2 separate regions of the Homo sapiens genome follow, and region 2 is linked to region 1. The links come from fine-mapping of genetic effects on gene expression. A gene starts in region 1. The other region holds a variant in brackets. All regions are shown on one strand. Distances are between the middles of the regions. Region 1 holds the start of CD300C (CD300c molecule). Region 2 holds the start of LOC107985074 (a long non-coding RNA gene).

Region 1 (9,787 bases):
GCAGGGCGCTCTGGGGTCTGGGGGAAGAGGGGTCCAGGCAGAGGGAGGAGTGAGGCAAATGTCCTGCAAGGGAGTCCTGGGACCCGGCCAGGCCAGGGCAGGGGGCAGATGTTTTGGTGCCCGGTGACCCCGGCCCTCTCCCCTGGCCTCCCTTGCAGCCCTGGCCCGAGTCTCATCCTGTTTGATGAGCCCAGTCCTCTGAGGAGCTGAGAGCTGAGCTGGGCCATTCATTCATTCCTTCCATTCCTTCAACAACCATGAATTTTACAGGCTGATATTTGCAACCAGAGGGCAGGTACCAGTTACTTGTGAATAACATGAATAGTCCTCACCTTCTCGGGAAATGATGGCCATACAGGCATCAAACTACATGACTGATTCCATGCGCCAGTGAATAACCCCGGGATGTAGAGATCTTGTGGGTGTGGTTCTCACCTGGATCCCTCCCTGTCCTCATGCACCATTTTCACGGCCACGTGCTTCCTTATAGGCAGTCCTGAGACTCCAGGGACTCTCAGGCTGAAGGTCAGGGTCTAATGATCTCTTTAGAGGAGTTGTCATATACAGAGTTTGTCCTCACAGGGATTTGTGTGGCCACAGGACCTGGGTTCACAGACAGGCAGAAGGTGGAGGGCACCTGGGCTTCCCCTGGGGAGATGACTCACTGCCATCACCGTGTCCCCACAGCTCCCTGTTCAGCAGCCCCTACGTCCTGCTCCTGGTCCTGGAGCTGCCCCTGCTCCTGAGCATGCTGGGTGCCGTCGTCTGGGTGAACGGACCTCAGAGAAGCTCTGGAAGCAGGCAGAGTTGGCCAGAGGGTGAGAACCAGTAGCATCTACTGTCCATCAAGGCCCTGCACTGCGACAGAACCCCTTTGCGGGACTGGAATGACCTCCTGACCACTCCCTCCCGGGCTGCTCTCTCCACATCTCCTGGAATTCTCTGTGAGCCTCCTTCAGCCTTTTCCCTGTGCCTGATCCATGAATCACACGTGAACCTGATGGACACAGACGCCCTGAGCTGTGACTCCATGTCTCATGTGCACGCCCTGGCCAGCTGAACCTCGAGCTGTCACCAACACCTCTAAGTGCCTGATGCCCTCTCTGCACCTTTCCATTTCTCCAGGAGCTTGGCATTGCTTCCTTCAACGTTTTCACAGGGAGGAGCAGGTCCAGGACTCCCCTGCACCTTTGCCACCATAATGGCCCACACTCCCCGGGTCCAGGAGTGCAGAATATGTGGCTGCTTCCATTTGCTGAGTGTGTCAATTCAATGATGCTTTCGAACTTTAAGAAATGACAATACATAGATTCTGGACCTATCATGCCCACTAAGTCAGACCTGGGTGAAAACTCCATTGTTCCCTGATCTCCACAGGCCTTTGCTCAGAATAGTGGACTAAGCCCCAGGCTGGGCCTCTCAGGACTGGGGTCCCTGCAGAAGAGGATCCAGGATTCCCCCCAAAACCTGACAATTCCGTTCCTTATGTAGACACATCCTGGCCAGTGTCTTCTGGTCCCTGCGGGAGGGCTGGTAGAAGATTATCAGTGTGAGTTGTGGCATGGTAGCCAGGCCTTTCCTTCCTCCTTCCTCAAGGGGACCTGACCTCCCCTTCATTCCAGGGCTGTGGCTTTTAACTGACTCAAATATGGAAATTGGTTGAGGGCCGTGACTTCTTAATGTGGTAGTTAACTGAGTCTTTTGCTTACTAGTGCAGACCATGTCTGCTTATCCAGACAAAGGAAGACGTTATCAGCTGACCATCGTTTCGGTTCCAGGGATGCCACACCCAAGACCCCTGTGAGGCAGATGATCCCCATGAGTCCACCAGGTCAAGGAGGGACACGCCTGGGGGTCCTCACCTATTTTTACATTCAGCAGATACTTATGGGAGCTTCTGGTGTATCAGACACTGACCTGGCATTGGAGTCCAGCCGTGAACACCCAGGCAAGGAGCTCTGTTTTCATTGAGCTCATATTCCAGGCGGGGGATAGAAATGATAAACAGATGCAAAAATACGTGCATAAATTCCAGAAGAAATATAAAAGTCAGAGATGAAAAGAGTCACGGAATGAAATAAGAGAAGTGGGGTGACTGCTGTGCAGGAGCTGAGGGGGACTGTGGTGAAGCCCCTCTAATAGGCGCTGAGCAAGCAGGGATCAGGAGAAAGGAGGGGGTGAGCGCCAGGATCCCTGGAGGAGGAGCCCTGAGGCAGAGAGAGGAGCAGGTGCACATGTCCTGCCAGGGGCAGATGCCTCCCTGGGTCAGGTGGCTTCAGGGCCTCCAGACAGCATTTCCTGTCTCCTCCCCAGCCTGGGCAGGAAATGGTGCACCAACTTTGGATGACTAAGTCCTCTGAGGCAGTGGGACATCAGGATGTCATGTATCCATTCACCCATTCATCCTTTCAACAGCCAGTTTGTTAAACTGCACTTGGCAGACTCTGGAATGATAACGGGCACAGCTGTGAATGAGACAAGAGGCTGCACCTGCTCTCAAGGGGCGGCCACCCTAGATGGGAGCAGACATTGACTCGCCAACAGAAAGACTGAGGAAGACGAGAGGGAAGTGTGAAATGGGTCATGAGGACCCCTAAAAAGCGAGCCACCATAACCCGGGAAGGTCAAGGAACACGCAGGCAACCCTGTCGGCTGGAGCCAGGCAGAGGAGTGGGAGGTTGAGGGTCTGGACAAAGGCCCGAGTGGGGAGGGTGGCAGCACCAGTGTGAACCTGGATCCAGGAGGCTGGAGACACCTACCAGGTGCTGGGGCCTGCCAGGACCTGTGTGCAGAGGCCAGGTCAGGTGGGTGCCATCCTGTGACAGCAGGAGCCATTGGGAGTTCAGCAGCGCCTCCCCAGGGCCATGTGTGTGTGTCAGGGATCACATTGCTGATTCTGTGGAGAATGAAAGGGGTGGGTATGAGCAGAAGGGGAGACCAGGTCAGCCCATGAAAGAGCCGGGATACTTCAAAGCCAGGCCCAGGCCAGACCTGAGCACTGGGCTAATTGGAGGCCCTGGGATTGCACTGGGCTAGAGATAGTCCCATGATGTGAGTCTGGGGGCATCAACACCAATGACCCCAGTGCATGCTGTGTCCCTGAGAGTGTAAATGGAGGGAGGACAGGGCAGGTCGAGGGTGCAGAGACCCCTTCATGGTGCCAGGTTTGCCCAGACTCCCATCACTCTCCACTCAACCTCATGGCTGTGTGCACATACTGGTGCTATTGACTCTGATAGGAAGAAAGGAACAGAAATCTGTAGGAGGGTTGGGAGAGTCAAGGAATATGCTTAAGGCATGAGAAGGTGGAGAAGGGGTGATGCCCTCCAGGACAGACAGGAGGTAAATCCTGTGTCTGACTAGCCTCCTTGCCCTTTCCAGGGTAAAGACACCCTGAGCCCATCACGTCAGGAGAACCAGCCATGCCGAGTGTGGATAGACCTGGGTTCCCGCCTCCTGGGAAGGCCTGTCTGCCATGTCTGCTCCCTGCGGAGGCCCCTGGCCATCACAGTGGACCCAGGATAGACACCAGCAGCCGCTGCTCATGACAAACTGTCCTCTCAGTCACCAAACACCCCTCCGTGTGCCCTGGGGTGTGTGCTGGCTCAGTCGCAGCCTCACATCCTCCACAAAGTCCCACTTCAGCATCTTCACATGTCTGAACTCTCTCTCTATTCTCAGTTCTCTGCCCTGATTCCCACTGGGGCATGGATTTTGGCAAGAAGACAAGATGGAAAAGGAGGGTCTCGGGTGGGTGATGCCGCTGTGTGTGTAGGTCTGGGGGCAGGGGCACAAGAGGAAAACTCCCCAAGCCTGTGGGATTTTAACCTGGTTGGGGACTCAGCACCAAAAAGGGACATGCAGATGGTGTCTGGGTTCATAGCGCTAACTTCTGAGGCCAGAAGAAGAGCTGGGGGTCTTAGGGGCAGAGGTCTCTGCGGGGACCTAGCTGAAGATTAAGGGACACAACCTCTCTCTGGTCACCTCCAAGGCTAAAGAAGGTGGCAGATTTAGCCTCCAACCACAAGATTGTCCATCCTGACCAGGAAGTGACATGTCACAGAGGGTGGAGCAGCCCATGTGGTAGGAAATGGCCCAGCTTGGCTCTGCCTTCTGCAGTGTGAGTAACACACTGAAGCCAGAAGCTGTGGGCTGTGGGGAAGTGGCTGCATCGCCACCCAAGGGACCCTGGACTTTGCCAGACGTCAGGGTTGAGAGGAGCCACTAGCACCATCCCAGAGCTGTCAGCACCGGCCTCAGCCCAGGCGGCTCTCTCCCTGAGCTTCCTGTACCCTGACCCTCTCCAGCCTCAGACCTGAGACAGGGCTGGACAAGGAAGCAGAGAGCAGAAGAAAAGCAGAAGCGAAGCTCAGATCTGCTGGGAGGAGATTACATTTTGTCCCCTCCTGGGGTCTTGCACAGTGGCAGGTGACATTCGTGTTACAGGAATGACTGCCAGGGCCTGGGCCTCGTGGCGGTCTTCAGCTCTGCTCCTCCTGCTTGTCCCAGGTGAGTGGGCCGACCCTGGACTTGGGGAGCTCTGTCCTGAGTGGGAGAGGGCAGGGAGGGGTGCAGGCGCTGGAGTAGCGGTCATAGAGGGGAGTGGGGCAGGGAGAGGGGAGGAGGGCAAAGGAGCACCCAGGAGCGGTCAGCAGCTGCCTCACCAGGGGACAGCAGGCGGCAGGGCACAGCACGGGGGAGGCCTATTCCTCTGTGCCCGAGACAGGAAGCCCTGGTGGGAGGTGATGCTGTGACTGTCATTGCCAAAGTTATCCAATCACAAATTTTATCTGGGACGATCACACACACAGTCACACTCACACGCACACACGGTCACACTCACACAGTCTCACACACATGCACACACAGTCACACTCACACAGTCTCACACACACATGCACACAGTCACACATGCACACACAGTCACACTCACATGCACACACAGTCACACATGCACACACAGTCACACACAGTCACACTCACACAGACAGTCACACTCACACAGTCACACACACAGAGTCACACTCACATGCACACACAGGCCCGCACACACCCAGTGTTTCCCTAGCCTTGCCTTTCCAGTCTCCATGGAAACTTCCCATGCCCTTCCCACCTCTGCACAGAGGGAGCCTCCCACCCTCAGTCCCTGTTCCTGGGTGGACAAAGGCTGCCTGCCTGCCATTGCCTTCTCCACACGCCCAGGGTCCATGAGGGGCTGACACTGCGGCACCCCTGACCAGGCCCCTCTGGTAAGGAGACAGGATTTTGGCTTGTATTTTTCAGGCTATTTTCCTCTGAGCCACCCCATGACCGTGGCGGGCCCCGTGGGGGGATCCCTGAGTGTGCAGTGTCGCTATGAGAAGGAACACAGGACCCTCAACAAATTCTGGTGCAGACCACCACAGATTCTCCGATGTGACAAGATTGTGGAGACCAAAGGGTCAGCAGGGAAAAGGAATGGCCGAGTGTCCATCAGGGACAGTCCTGCAAACCTCAGCTTCACAGTGACCCTGGAGAATCTCACAGAGGAGGACGCAGGCACCTACTGGTGTGGGGTGGATACACCGTGGCTCCGAGACTTTCATGATCCCATTGTCGAGGTTGAGGTGTCCGTGTTCCCGGGTGAGCCCCTCCTTTTCTCAGCACCAGGCCTGCCTGAGCCTAGGGCTGGTCATTCTGTCCCTGAAGAAAGAAGTGGAACAGGAGGGTGTGAGCCTGGGGGTTGGTGAGTCAGGACACTGTGTGCCGCTGTGTGTGGATGAGTGTGAGTGCGTCTTTGTGTATGCGTGCCTGCATAGGAGTTGTGGTGTGGTTTGTGTGTGTGTGCACCTGCATGTGTGTGTTGGGAGGGTGGGCGCCCACAAAAGCACCCTGGCCCTGTGGCTGGAGACCCCCCGCTGTGGGCCCTCCCTCACGGCCTCAGGCCTGAAACTTTCCTGGGTGGGGTCTGTGAGGCCACCCCTGACTCTGGGGTCCTTGCTACCTCCCTGTATTGACAAGGGCCGGATCCATACTGAAGGGTGCCCACTGTCCCGCCTGGGTCTAACTCGCTCTTCCCCACGGGGAATTGGACCCCCCCATCATTGGCTCCTCTCACTCAAGGCTGCCCCTGCCCTGGGGCCTGCATGGATGCCGCCCTGTCTGGAGGGTCCTGAGGCCGCAGCCTCACAGCCCTGTCCTGGGAGCTCCTGCAGCAGCCACTGGAGGACACAGGAAGGAGCCCCAGAGCCCTGGGTGGGGTTCTCATGCTCCTGGGAACCACATCCTGCCCCTGAGGCTGACCTGTGTGTCCCCCTTATTCTCTGGCACCTTTTACCACAGGAGGGAACCCCAGAAATTGCCCCCTCAGGCAAAGGGACCTGTGGATGGAAATGAGCTGAGACTGGCACGGACCTGAGGGCCCTTTCCCGTGCCGAAGATCATTCTTCCCTCAAAGGCCCCCTCCTGTCTCACAAGACACAAACCCAGTGGCCTCAGTGTGGTTGCTTTTCCATCGTTTTCTTCTGACAATGTCCCAGGTTCCTCGGAGCATCTTCTTGTTCTCCATTTCCCCGGGGGCGACGTGTCCCTCCTGCGCCCTTTGTGCCTTCCTATCTAGGAGTGAGGAGCTAAGATCCCACCTGAGGGCGCCAGGGAGAGGAGGAAAGGGCCCTTATCCAGCTGTATTCACCACGGGCCGCCGCCCAGGCTTCACCGGGCATCCCCTCTCTAGATCTTTCTTCCTGGGCATTCCCTCCTGCTGAGAGGATGGTCCAATGGCCTTGTGGGGCCGCAGCATGGCTGCCATTTGGGGCTGAGTGGACTCGGGTCCCATCGTTCAGGGAGGACCCCACTGACTTCCTGTCCTCACTTCCAGCCTCTCTCCAGCCACTGCTGTGCCCAGGGCCCTGGCTTCGCAGTCACTCTGGGTCACCCTTCGCAGAGTAAACATCACCCCATTCCCCCAGGTCACCCTGTCCCTCCCTGGCTGGGGTGAAACCTGGAGACCCGTACCTTTGCCACAGGTGAGCAGGGCAGCTCTCACATCTGAAATGGTGTCCTGGCTCTGCAGTACCTAGGGATGGGACAAGGAGAGGCCCAGGACCCTGGTCAGGCCTGGGTGTGGCCGTGGGGCATGATGGATGCAGGGCATCTGTCCAGCACATCATTGGTGACCTTGTCTGTGAAAATTGGAGCAGAACAGGTGAGAGTAAGTGGGAGACCCATGTGATGTCATCAAGGTTGACCTGTGTTTCACCCACAGCCGGGACGACCACAGCCTCCAGCCCCCAGAGCTCCATGGGCACCTCAGGTCCTCCCACGAAGCTGCCCGTGCACACCTGGCCCAGCGTGACCAGAAAGGACAGCCCCGAACCCAGCCCACACCCTGGGTAAGGTGCCTGCGCATAGGACTGGGCCACGCTGGCGGCCTCCCCACTGCGTGTGATGTTTAGGGGACTCGGATGTCCCTTCTTCCAGTCCCTTCTTTGTTCGCACCTCCCACACCAAACGTGAAGGTTCTATTAAGTGTCAGGCGCTCCTTTTGGGATTGGGTCACAGCAGGGAACCACACAGCCACTGTCCTGCCCTGGTGGAAGTTGAGTTCTACTGCGTGGATTCACGCATTGAGCAAGTCAGCACAGAGGCTGATGTACAAATACAGCAAAGGGTAATGAATGCTGGGATGAGATGTTTGACTCTTGGGTTTGGGGAGAGCGTGTGCAGGTGTTGGAGTTGCTATTTCACTGACGATGATCAGAAGAGGGTTTGAGAATTAGAGGACATGAGCACAGAGACCTCAAGGGTTGGGGGCTGGGCACTCTGGGGTCTGGAGGAAGAAGGGTCCAGGTGGAGGGAGGAGTGAGGCAAATGTCCTGCGAGGAGCCTTGGGACCTGGCCAGGCCAGGGAAGGGGGCAGATGCTCTGGGGTCCGGTGGCCCTGGTCCTCTCCCCTGCCTCTCTCGCAGCCCTGGCCAGAGTTTCATCCTGTTTGATAAGCCCAGTCCTCTGAGGAGCTGAGAGCTGAGCTGTCCATTCATTAATTCCTTCAACAACCACTGAAGTTGTAGGGCAGATTATTGGAGACTCCGGGTAGGCAGCAGGTACTCACTGTGAATGAAACAAATGGTCCCTGCCCTCCTGGAAACGCTGTGTACAGGAGAGTTGACACCAAACAAATAACCCTTTGTGAATTCCGGGACCCCAGCTGGGTAACCCTCCATGGGGAGCACAGAGGTAGACAGCTGCGTCCTGGACACAGACCCTGCCTGGATCCCTGGCGTGACCTCACGTCCTCTCATGGTCCTGCCCTTCCTGTGTCACAGTCCTCAGGTCAAGGGTAAATCCGAGGCTGAGGGTTAGGGGCCGTGATGCTGAGACGGGATGGACTGTCCAGGGGGGTGCTTATGTGGTTGGCTGTGGTCACAGGATTGGGACACAAGGGTCAGGGGATGGTGGAGGGCACCTGGGCCTCCCCTGGGGAGGTGACTCACTGCCTGTCACCGTGTCCCCACAGCTCCCTGTTCAGCAATGTCCGCTTCCTGCTCCTGGTCCTCTTGGAGCTGCCCCTGCTCCTGAGCATGCTGGGTGCCGTCCTCTGGGTGAACAGACCTCAGAGAAGCTCTAGAAGCAGGCAGAATTGGCCCAAGGGTGAGAACCAGTAGCATCTGCTGTCCATCAAGGCCCTGTGCTGCAACAGAGCCCCTCTGGGGGACTGGAATGACCTCCTGACCACTCCCTCCCGGGCTGCTCTCTCCACATCTCCTGGAATCCTTTGTGAGCCTCCTTCAGCCTTTTCCCTGTGCCCGATCCTCATGTGTCACATGTGAACCTGACGGACATGGACGCCCTGAGCTGTGAGTCCACGTCTCATGTGCACGCCCCGGCCAGCTAAGCCTCGGGCCGTCAGCAATACCTCTGAGTGCCCGGATGCCCTCCCTGCACCCTTCCATTTCTCCAGGAGCCTGGCACTGCTTCCTCCACCGTTTTCACAGGGAGAAGCAGGTCTAGGACTCCCCTGCACCTTTGCCACCATAATGGCCCACACTCCCTGGGTCCAGGAGTGTAGAATATGCGGCTGCTTCCATTTGCTGAGTGTGTCGATTCAATGATGCTTTCAAACTTTAATAAATGACAATGTGTAGGTTTGGGATGTATCAGGCCCACTCAGTCAGACCTGAGTGAGAAATCCATTGTTCCCTGATTTCCACAGGCCTTTGCTGAGAATAGTGGACCAAGCCCCATGTTAGGCCTCTCGGAATGGGGGTCCCTGCAGAAAAGGATCCAGAATTTCCCCCAAAGCCTGACTATTCCCTCCTTCAGGTAGACACATCCTGGCCAGTGTCTTTAGGTCCCTCTGGGAGAGCTGGTAGAAGATTCTCAGTGTGAACTGTGGTAGCATAACCAGGCCTACCCTTCCTCCTTCTTCAAGGGGACCTGACCTCTCCTTCATTCCAGGGCTGTGGGTTTTAACTGGTGCAAATTTGGAAACGGATGGAGGGCTATGACTCCTTGATGTGGTAGTTAAGTGAGTCTTTTGCTCAGTAGTGTAGACCATGTCTGTCTATACAGACGAAAGATGTTATCATTTGCCCACCATTTCAGTTCCAGGGTCGCCATGATGACCTGGCCAACACCCAAGACCCCTGTGAGGCAGATGATTCCCATGAGTCCTCCTGGTCAAGGAGGGCCTCGCCTGGGGGGTTCTTAACCCTTTTTTCCATTCGGCAGATGCTTATGGGAGCTTTTGGTGTATCAGACACTGACCTGGCATTGGAGTCCAGCCGTGAACACCCAGGCAAGGAGCTCT
Region 2 (9,787 bases), 27 kb after region 1:
GGAATCTTCAGAGTGGGGCTGCCCGGCCCAGGGTCACAGGCTTTGGCTGGTGGCTCACAGGGTCAGGGGATGGGAGTGACATGGCCTGGGGATGCCCAGGGCTCTGACCACTGCATCCCCTTCCCCAGGAACCACTACATGCTCCTGGTATTTGTGAAGGTGCCCATCTTGCTCATCTTGGTCACTGCCATCCTCTGGTTGAAGGGGTCTCAGAGGGTCCCTGAGGAGCCAGGGGAACAGCCTATCTACATGAACTTCTCCGAACCTCTGACTAAAGACATGGCCACTTAGAGAGATGGATCTGCAGAGCCTTCCTGCCCTGGCCACGTTTCCAGAAGAGACTCGGGCTGTGGAAGGAACATCTACGAGTCCTCGGGATGCAGTGACTGAGATAGGGGCCCTGGGCCTCCGCCCTGGCCTTGGAGCTGGTGGGCACCTCCCTGTTCTGCACAGCTCAGGGACTTAGCCAGGTCCTCTCCTGAGCCACCATCACCTCCTGGGGTGCCAGCACCTGTTCTCTTGGTCAGGAGCTGTAGAGATGGAGCTCAAGCACTGGACGACTCTGTCCCCACTGCTGGAATAACTCGGGCACAGAGCATGGGACCAAAGTACAGAAAGAGGTTGGGGGAGACCCCCCCAGCCCTAGACTTCCATCATTCCGGAGACCAACTCAACACCGTCTTTGCCTGAGAACCTGATATATCCGTGTTTTTAAATTTTTTTTTTTCTAGCAAAGTTGGGTTTTAATGACTTATGTTCATAGGAAACCTCTCTGATCCCACACACAAGGAGGGTGATTCTGGGATGAGTTCCTGGTTCTAGGGCATGAGGGGCTGGATGGACCCTGTCCCCAGGGAGGACATGGCTCTGAGTCCACAGGGCTGAGGAGGCAATGGGAACCTCCCTGGCCCGGCCCGGTGCTTGTCCTCCCCCTCCCACCTCTTCCTCCTCCTAGCTCCCCAAGCTCCCTGCCTATTCCCCCACCTCCGAGGGGCTGCAGCTTGGGAGCCTCCTCAGCATGACAGCTTGGGTCTCCTCCCCAAAAGAGCCTGTCAGGCCTCAAGAACCACCTCCAGGTGGGGAGGGCAGTAACGAAAACCATCGCAGGAAATGGCACCCTCCCTTTTCGGTGATGTTGAAATCATGTTACTAATGAAAACTGTCCTAGGGAAGTGGTTCTGTCTCCTCACAGGCTTCACCCACGGCGATGAGGCCCTTGAATGTGGTCACTTTGTGCTGTATGGTTGAGGGACCCTCACACCAAAGGGACCTTCCCATGTGAGATGTGCTCCCGCCCCCACCTGCCCACAAGCAAACACACCACACATGTTCGGCATGTTGCCCTTTGAACACCCATGAGGACGCCTCCAACCTGCTCTTGGTTCTAATAGGGAGTACTGACTGTCAGCAGTGGATAAAGGAGAGGGGACCCTCTGGTCCCTAGCATGGCACCCAGAGCCTCCCCTCTTCTTGTCCTTCAGCCAAAGAGAAACTTTCTCTGACTTTGAACTGAATTTAGGTCTCTGGCCAATGATGGGCCTGAAAATTCCATAATGGCCAGAGAGGAGAGTTCGAGCCCGGCTAAGATCCCCTGAGTCATTCTGTGAGGGACCAAGACCCACAGTCCACCAGCCCCAGGGCCCTACCTCCTGGAATGCTTTCCTGGATCCAGCTTCCCGAAGATCCGACCAGACCCAGGGAGGACGGCACCGCTCCGCGGGAGGGAAAGCCAAAGCATGGTGCTTCACCAGCTGGACTCAGGGGCGAGGGGACATGGGCGCTTGTCAACGTGATGTCATTCTTTTCCCACCGTTTCTTCCTGTTGATATTCAATGAATCCGTCAATCTCTCTGGAGCTAGTGTGGCTGGGTTGTTATTCTCGTGGCTCTGTTAAGGAGAATCCACTGGAGTAAAGTAGGCATCTATTGTCTGTCTGCCCAACTACCACCCACCGCGCACGCCCTTACACCACCACCCCTTGTACACATCTCTAGGAATACCCCTTGGGGTTCCAACACAAGCTGACAAGCAAGGCTTGCCTAATACGCCCATTCTCTGGGGTAGGGAGAAAGACGGAAGTCAATAAATGAGTCACTAGTGCTGGCATTGCATTTTCCAGCAAATATGTTTCCATTGGGAGCTTGGAGCCAAAGCCGTCATGCCCTTAAATAGCCACAGACCATGAGGATTCGGCATATGCTGATTTTCACACTTAATGGAACCAAAAGTTAGTGAGGCCGGGCATGGTGGCTCCCGCCTGTAATCCCAGACCTTTGGGAGGCTGAGGCAGGTGGATCACCTGAGGTCAGGAGTTCAAGACCAGCCTGGCCAACATGGCAAAACTGCTGTCTCTACTAAAAATACAGCAATTAGCTGGGTGTGGTGGTGTACACCTGTAGTCCCAGCTACTCAGGAGGCTGAGGCAGGAGGATCACTTGAACCCGGGAAGTGGAGGTTGCAGTGAGACGAGATGGTGCCATTGCACTTCAGCCTGGGTGACAGAGGACAGAGCGAAACTCTGTCTCAAAAAAAAAAAAAAAGTTAGTGGGCAGGTGTGGATCTTGCTCTTTTAAGAAAAAAGCACAGCTTTTCCTTCCCCATGAGGCCCTTCCCACAGGCCTTTACTTCTGAACAACTGCATAGCCACAGAGGAAGTTCAGAGCCGAGGGCAGCTGGCTAGGGGCAGTAAAGAGATAGCAGCGGGAAGGGCCCTCACCAGAGAGGCAGACATGGGTTCCTTCTTCTTCCCCTTTTTAAAAATTGTGGTAAAAAATGAACAAACAAAAAACACCTAACATGAAATCTGCCCTCTTAACAAACTCTTAGGTGTGTGGTAAAATATGATTAATTATATGCACATTGTTGTACAGCAGAGTTCTAGAACTTTCTCACCTTGCATGACTAAATCATGCCCATTGAGTAGCAACTCTCCCTCCCACTCCTCCACCAGCCCCCGGCTGCCACTATTTTACTTTTTGCTTCTATGAGTGTGACTAGTTTAGTTACCTCATGTAACCAGAACCATGCAGCCTTTAACCTGTGACTGTCTTATTTTAGTTAGCATAATGTCCTCAAGATGCATCCATGTTGTTGAATACGGCAGGATTTCCTTCTTTGTTAAGGCTGAATAAAATTATATTCCATTGTAAGATAAAGAATACGTGGCACATATACATAATGGAATACTGTTTAGATGTAAGAAAGAACAAAATTCGACTGGGCGCGGTGGCTCACGCCTGTAATCCCAGCACTTTGGGAGGCCGAGGCAGGCGGATCACGAGATCAAGAGATCAAGACCATCCTGGCCAACATGGTGAAACCCTGTCTCTACTAAAAATGCAAAAATTAGCTGGGCCTGTTAGTGTGTGCCTGTAGTCCCAGCTACTCAGGAGGCTGAGGCAGGAGAATCGCTTGAACCCAGGAGGTGGAGGTTGCAGTGAGCCAAGATCCTGCCACTGCACTTCAGCCTGGCGACAGAGCAAGACACCGTTTAAAAAAAAAAAAAAGAACAAAATTCTATCATTTGTGGCAACATGGATGAGCTTGGAGGACGTTATGTGAATGAAATAAGTCAGGCCCAGAAAGAGAAATACTGCATGTTCTCAAGTTGATCTCAAGACATAGAGAATAGAACAGTGGTTATTAGAGGTGGGGCAGTGTGTTGGGGGTTAGGGGATAGCCAGAGATTTGTTAACAGATACAAAAGTACAGCTGCATAGGCAGAATAAATCCTCGTGTGCTATAGCACTAGGGGATGTCTATAATTGTCAACAACTTATTGTATATTTTCAAATAGCTAGAAGAGTAGATTTTGAATGTTTCCAACACAAAAGTGAGGTGATGGATATGCTGATTACCCTTATTTGATCATTACACATTATATACATGTATCAAAATATCACAATGTGCCCCATAAATGTCTGATTATGTGTCAATTAAAAATAGTAATAATTTTTAAAAGAAAATAAATAGAAGAAAAAACTGTGTTCTCAGCCTACTTTCAAGCACACTATAAAATATTTTGTTCTCATCCCCCACTAAAATATTATTCCATTGTGTATTAGCCTGTTTTCACACTGCCGATAAACACATACCCAAGACTGGGCAATTTACAAAAGAAAGAGGTTTATTGGACTTACAGTTCCACATGGCTGGGGAGGCCTTACAATCATGGTGGAAGGCAAGGAGGAGCAAGTCACATCTTACATGGATGGCAGCAGGCA[AAGAG/G]AGAGAGCTTCTGCAGGGAGACTCCCGTTTATAAAACCATCAGATCTCATGAGACCCATTCACTACCACCAGAACAGCACGGGGAAGCCCTGCCCTCATGATTCAGTCATCTCCCACCAGGTCCCTCCTACAACATGTGGGAATTATGGGAGCTACACGATGAGATTTGGGTGGGGACACAGAGCCAAACCGCATCACATTGTATGTACATATCACACTTTCTTTATCCATTCATCCATTGATGGACGTTTAGGCTGTTTCCATCTCTTGGTTATTGTGAATAATGCTGCTTCCAATGAACATAGGCATGCAGATAGCACTTTGCAATCCTGTTTTCAGTTTTTCTGGATAAATACCCAGAAGTGGGACTTCTGGATCATATGATAGTTCTATTTTTAATTTTTTGAGTAACCTCAATACTATTTCCCATAATAGCAGCTACACCATTTTACCTCCCCACCAATAGTGCACAAGGGTTCTAGTGTCTCCACATTCTCACCAGCATTTGTTGTTTTCTGTTGTTTTATACATGTTGTTTCTATACATATATATATACACATTCTCACCAGCATTTGTTGTTTCTGTTGTTTTATACATGTTTTTATACACACATATATACACACACACAATGGCTATTCTAACAGGTGTGAAGTGATATCCCATTGTGGTTTTGATTTGCATTTTCCTGATAATGAGTGGTGTTGAGCATCTTTTCATGTATTTATTGGCTATTTGTAGATTTCTTCTGGAGAAATGTCAAGTCCTTTGCCCATTTAATCGGGCCTTTTTTTTTTTTATTGTTTTAGGAGTTCTGTCTATATTTGGGATATAATTCCTTATCAGATATGTAATTTGCAAATATTTTATCCCATTGTGTGAGTTGCCTTTTTACTCTGTTGATATTGTCATTTGGTGCACAAATTTTGAAATTTTAGCCAGACATGGTGGTTTGCACCTGTAATCCTGGCTACTCAGGAGGCAGAGGTGAGAGGATCACTTGGACTCAGGAGTTTGAGGCTGTGGTGCGCCATGATCATGCCAGTAAATAGCCACTGCATTTCAGCCTGGGCAGCATAGCAAAACCCCCATCTCTTAAAAAAAAAAAGATATGAGTCAAAAACACATAATTTAAATTTTCATGAAGTTCCATTTGTCTGTGTTGTTGTTGTTGTTGCCTGTCCCCTCAGCATCATGTCTATGAAATCACTGGCAAATCCAATGCTGTGAAACTTTTGCCTTGTGTTTTCTTCTAAGAGTTTTATGGTTTTAGATCCTACATTTAGGTCTTTGATCCATTTGAGTTAATTTTTGTCTATGTTATTAGGGAAGGCTCCAGTGTCATTCTTTTGCATATGAATTTCCAGTTTTTCAATTATTACTATTTTTTTAAAAAATCATTTCCCTTACTCGCAAGTAGGTAGTTTCTAGTCCAAGATTTTATCTGGGAGGTAGTGCCTTTGAGTATTCTGATCGTTAAGTGGAGTCTCAGACACAGCGCCCATTTTGGGTGGTCTAAGCCTATTGCTCCCCCAAGCCCTGCAGTTCATCCCCTAAATACTAGCCTCTCTGTAAGGTCAGCCACTGATCATGGCAGCCACTGCTTCCTCTCTTGTTTCACTGTTAATTGCTGATTTGGGGCTTTTGGTTTGTTTGTTTGGCCTTGGTGGTGTCCTTGGAATTGGTTGATACAAGTTCCTTCTTGCTCTGTGGTCATGGCCTCAGAACTGTCTTCATCCTAAGGCAGCAGAGAGAGATCTCTGAAGTAGGCAGCAGAGAGAGATCAGCCCAGACACCAGACACAAGGACTTCTGAGGAAGAAAACCAGACCACTGATCCCAGAAGTTTCCCAGAGTCCCCACCCCCATCACATCCCCTCAATGTCTCATTGGCTGCTTCAGACTCTGGTGACCACCCCTAGCTTAATTACTGACAAGGTGATTGGGACCAGCTTCCAGCTGGGACTATCCTCCCCTGATTCACATTTGGAAGGGTGGATGGCCAGACCTGGTGATGGCTCCATCCTGGAGTGGAGTTGGGTAGGAGGAGACAAAAACGCCTGTTGCAGAAGTCTTGCTGGACCCCGCTCCATTCTGAGCCTCCTCCTGGGTCTTTCTAGACCACTGTGCCTCCATCTTTGTGAACACAACAAGCTCCTGCCCTCACACCCTCTCCTGAGGCAGGTTGGAGGGGTCTCTGTGGGCTGCAGCATCAGGAACTTGACCCTTTCTCCCCCTCCTCAGCTTCTCAGCTCCATCTCCTCCAGGGCCATGGCAACTTTCTTTCTGCAAACAGAAGCCTCCGCGAGGACACAGGCTCCTCACAGCTGAAGTCCTGTGCAAGCCAGCATCCCCCACCATCATCCTTTTGTCTCAGTACTAACCCAGGCAACTGTACCACTGGCCAAAAAAAAAAAAAGTACTTTGATGGTTAATACTGAATGTCAACTTGATCAGATTGAAGGATGCAAAGTATTGTTCCTGGGTGTGTCTGTGAGGGTATTGTCAAAGGAGATTAACGTTTGAGTCAGTGGAATGGGAAAGGCAGACCCACCCTCAATCCGGGTGGGCACCATCCAATCAGCTGCCAGTGTGGCCAGAATAAAAGTAGGCAGAAGAACATGAAAGACTAGATTGGCTAAGTCTTCCAGCCTCCACCTTTCTCCCATGGTAAATGCTTCCTGCCCTTGAACATCGGACTCCAAGTTCTTCAGCTTCTGGACTCTTGGACTTACACCAGTGATTTGCCAGGGGCTCTTGGGCTTTCAGCTACAGACTGAAGGTTGCTCTGTCAGCTTCCGTACCTTTGAGGTTTTGGTACTTGGACTGGCTTCCTGGCTCCTCAGCTTGCAAACAGCCTATTGTGGGACTTTACCTTGTGATTGTGTGAGTTCATTTTCCTAATAAACTCCCCTTCATATATATATATATATCTCCTATTAGTTCTGTCCCTCTAGAGAACCCTGAGTAATACAAGTACTAAACTTTATTTAGCTGCCAATTTCTGTTCTAAATCTATGTTTGTCAGGGAACAACTGGTCTGCAAATGCTAATGGCTTTACCTTGGCTCTCCTTCCTTACTTACTCACAAGCAGGTAGTTTCTGGTCCACCATTTTACCTGGGAGATAACGCCTTTGAGTATTCTGGCCGTAAGTGGAGTCTCAGACACAGCTCCCCACTTTGGGTGGCCTCAAGAACACACCCACGGAGGGAGTGTTCTAACCTCAGGGCATCCTTGGGGGCATCAATCAAGGAGAGATGGGGCCACAGGCCTGAGAGCAGGAAGCTGCAGAATTCTCCAAGGCACTGCTCAGGGTCCCCAGTCCAGAGGTCTCCTGTGTGTGGATATAGAATCTAGTGTGACCCTTTGACAGAGACGCCTCGTTGAGCCTTTGTGTCAGAGACACCACTTTTCATCCATTAATGATCGGCCATTTATCATGATGCAAGAGGAGAAAGAGAAAACAGGGGGTTCCAGCAAGGCCAGAGCAGCCAGAGATGGTGAACGATGTCACCCAACATCTGGCTCCCAAGTTTATGGAGGAAGAAGGGGATGTTTTGTGTCTTCTGGGGTTTCCTTTGGTAATGTGTCCCTGTGGTGGCCCTTGGTGTGCTATGATGAGCCACCTGCAGCAGTCAGCACTAGGAAGCCCCAGTAGAGATTGTGTTACCAGCGTGGCAGAGAACTCACAGCCTCTCCCCTGCTTGGTGAACAGGTGCTCCCCCTGGAATCATATGACATCAATCACCCATCACATGATCACCCATGATGTGACATCACCCATCACATGATTGCCCATCACGTGATGTCGCCCATCACGTGATATTGCCCATCACATGACATCACCCATCATATGATCGCCCATCACGTGATGTCGCCCATCATGTGATATCACCCATCACGTGACATCACCCATCACATGATCACCCATCACATGACATCACCTATCACATGACCACCCCCGCATGACATCACCCATTACATGATATCACCCATCACATGACCACCCATCACATGACATCACCTGTCACATGATCACCATCACATCACCCATCACATGATTGCCCATCACATCACCCATCACATGACATCACCCATCACATGACCACCCATTACATGACAGCACCCATCACATGATCACCCATCACATGACATCCCTGTCACATGACATCACTCATCACATGATCACCTATCACATGACATCACCCATCACATGACATCACTCATCACATGATCACCCATCACATGACATCACCTGTCACATGACCACATGTCACATGGCATCACCCATCACATGACATCACCCATCACATGATCACCTGTCACATGATCACCTGTCACATGACATCACCCATGATATGACATCACCCATCACATGATCACTTGTCACATGATCACCCATCACATGACATCACCCATCACATGACATCACCCATCACATGATCGTCGATCACATGACATCACCTATCACATGACCACCCCCACATGACATCACCCATTACATATCACCCATCACATGACCACCCATCACATGACATCACCTGTCACATGATCACCCATCACATGACATCGCCCATCCCATCACCCATCACATGACATCACCCATCACATGACCACTCATCACAGGATCACCTTGTCACATGACCACCTGTCACATGGCATCACCCATCACATGACATAACCCATCACATGGCATCACCCATCACATGACATCACCCATCACATGACATCATGCATCACATGACATCACCCATCACATGACATCACACATCACATGACATCACCCATCACATGACATCACCCATCACATGACATCACCCATCACATGACATCAATGTCCCATAGATAAGCAGAACACTAAATTGATTCTGTAGAGTGAATATGGGATGGAAAAATCCAACTCTAATCATACCCTACTCACCAAGCAGGAAAGACATGCATAAGCTTCACCTGAAAGTCTTATTTTAGGGCATTGTTGTGTAATCCCAGCATTTTGGGAGGCTGAGGCAGGATGTTTGCTTGAGCCCAGGAATTTGAGACCAGCCTGTACTGGCAAGACCCCCCATCTCTATAAAACATTTAAAATAATAAATAAATAAATAAATAAATAAATAAATAAAAACAAAGGCTGTGATTCCAGGAGCAGAATATTTGGTAATGGAACATAAAGAAAGACAAAGGCCAGGCAGGCCATTCGAGGCATCAGTTCAAGTCCATGCCCATGAGCTGCCTCCTGCCTGCTCAGGCAACCTCCCAGGCAGCTGAAATCAGAAAAACAGATGAGGGTCACAAGCATTCAGCTTCCTGGAAAGGAGTGTCCCCAAAATAAATCACTTGAGTTATTGTAGGGTCTCAGTCTCTCTTCTTGTCTGGATGGTGGTCGGGTTCTAGATTTGCAGGAATGAGGACCAGACCCAGGTAAATTCACCAAAGTCGTATCCCAAGAGGAGATCTCCCAACCATGGCCTTTGCATCGTTTAACTCATCAACCTCAGAAGCACTGGGGGGATTGACCCAACCACATGAAACCAGGTTTCCATGGCCCATTTTAGAAGGTAGAAT

What was found. PIP is the estimated chance that this variant, and not a neighbour inherited with it, causes the effect.
Region 2: its variant is the best candidate, but not a certain one, in a credible set for the expression of CD300C in blood mononuclear cells (TOPMed, PIP 0.70).

Annotation. Positions count from the first base shown.
Region 1 is chr17:74,540,444-74,550,230 of GRCh38, reverse strand. It overlaps CD300C (CD300c molecule), which reads left to right and starts at 4,116. Exons shown (of 4, transcript NM_006678.5): 1 at 4,116-4,509; 2 at 5,284-5,622; 3 at 7,244-7,370; 4 at 8,495-9,158. The coding sequence starts at 4,449. The coding sequence ends at 8,642. It also overlaps a transcript of LOC107985074 not described here.
Region 2 is chr17:74,513,242-74,523,028 of GRCh38, reverse strand. It overlaps CD300LB (CD300 molecule like family member b), which reads left to right. Exons shown (of 4, transcript NM_174892.4): 4 at 129-1,855. The coding sequence ends at 291. LOC107985074 (a long non-coding RNA gene) reads right to left here and starts at 1,998. Exons shown (of 3, transcript XR_007065902.1): 1 at 1,647-1,998. RefSeq lists an enhancer at 1,204-1,263. The variant AAGAG/G (reference allele first, on the strand shown) is at 4,224.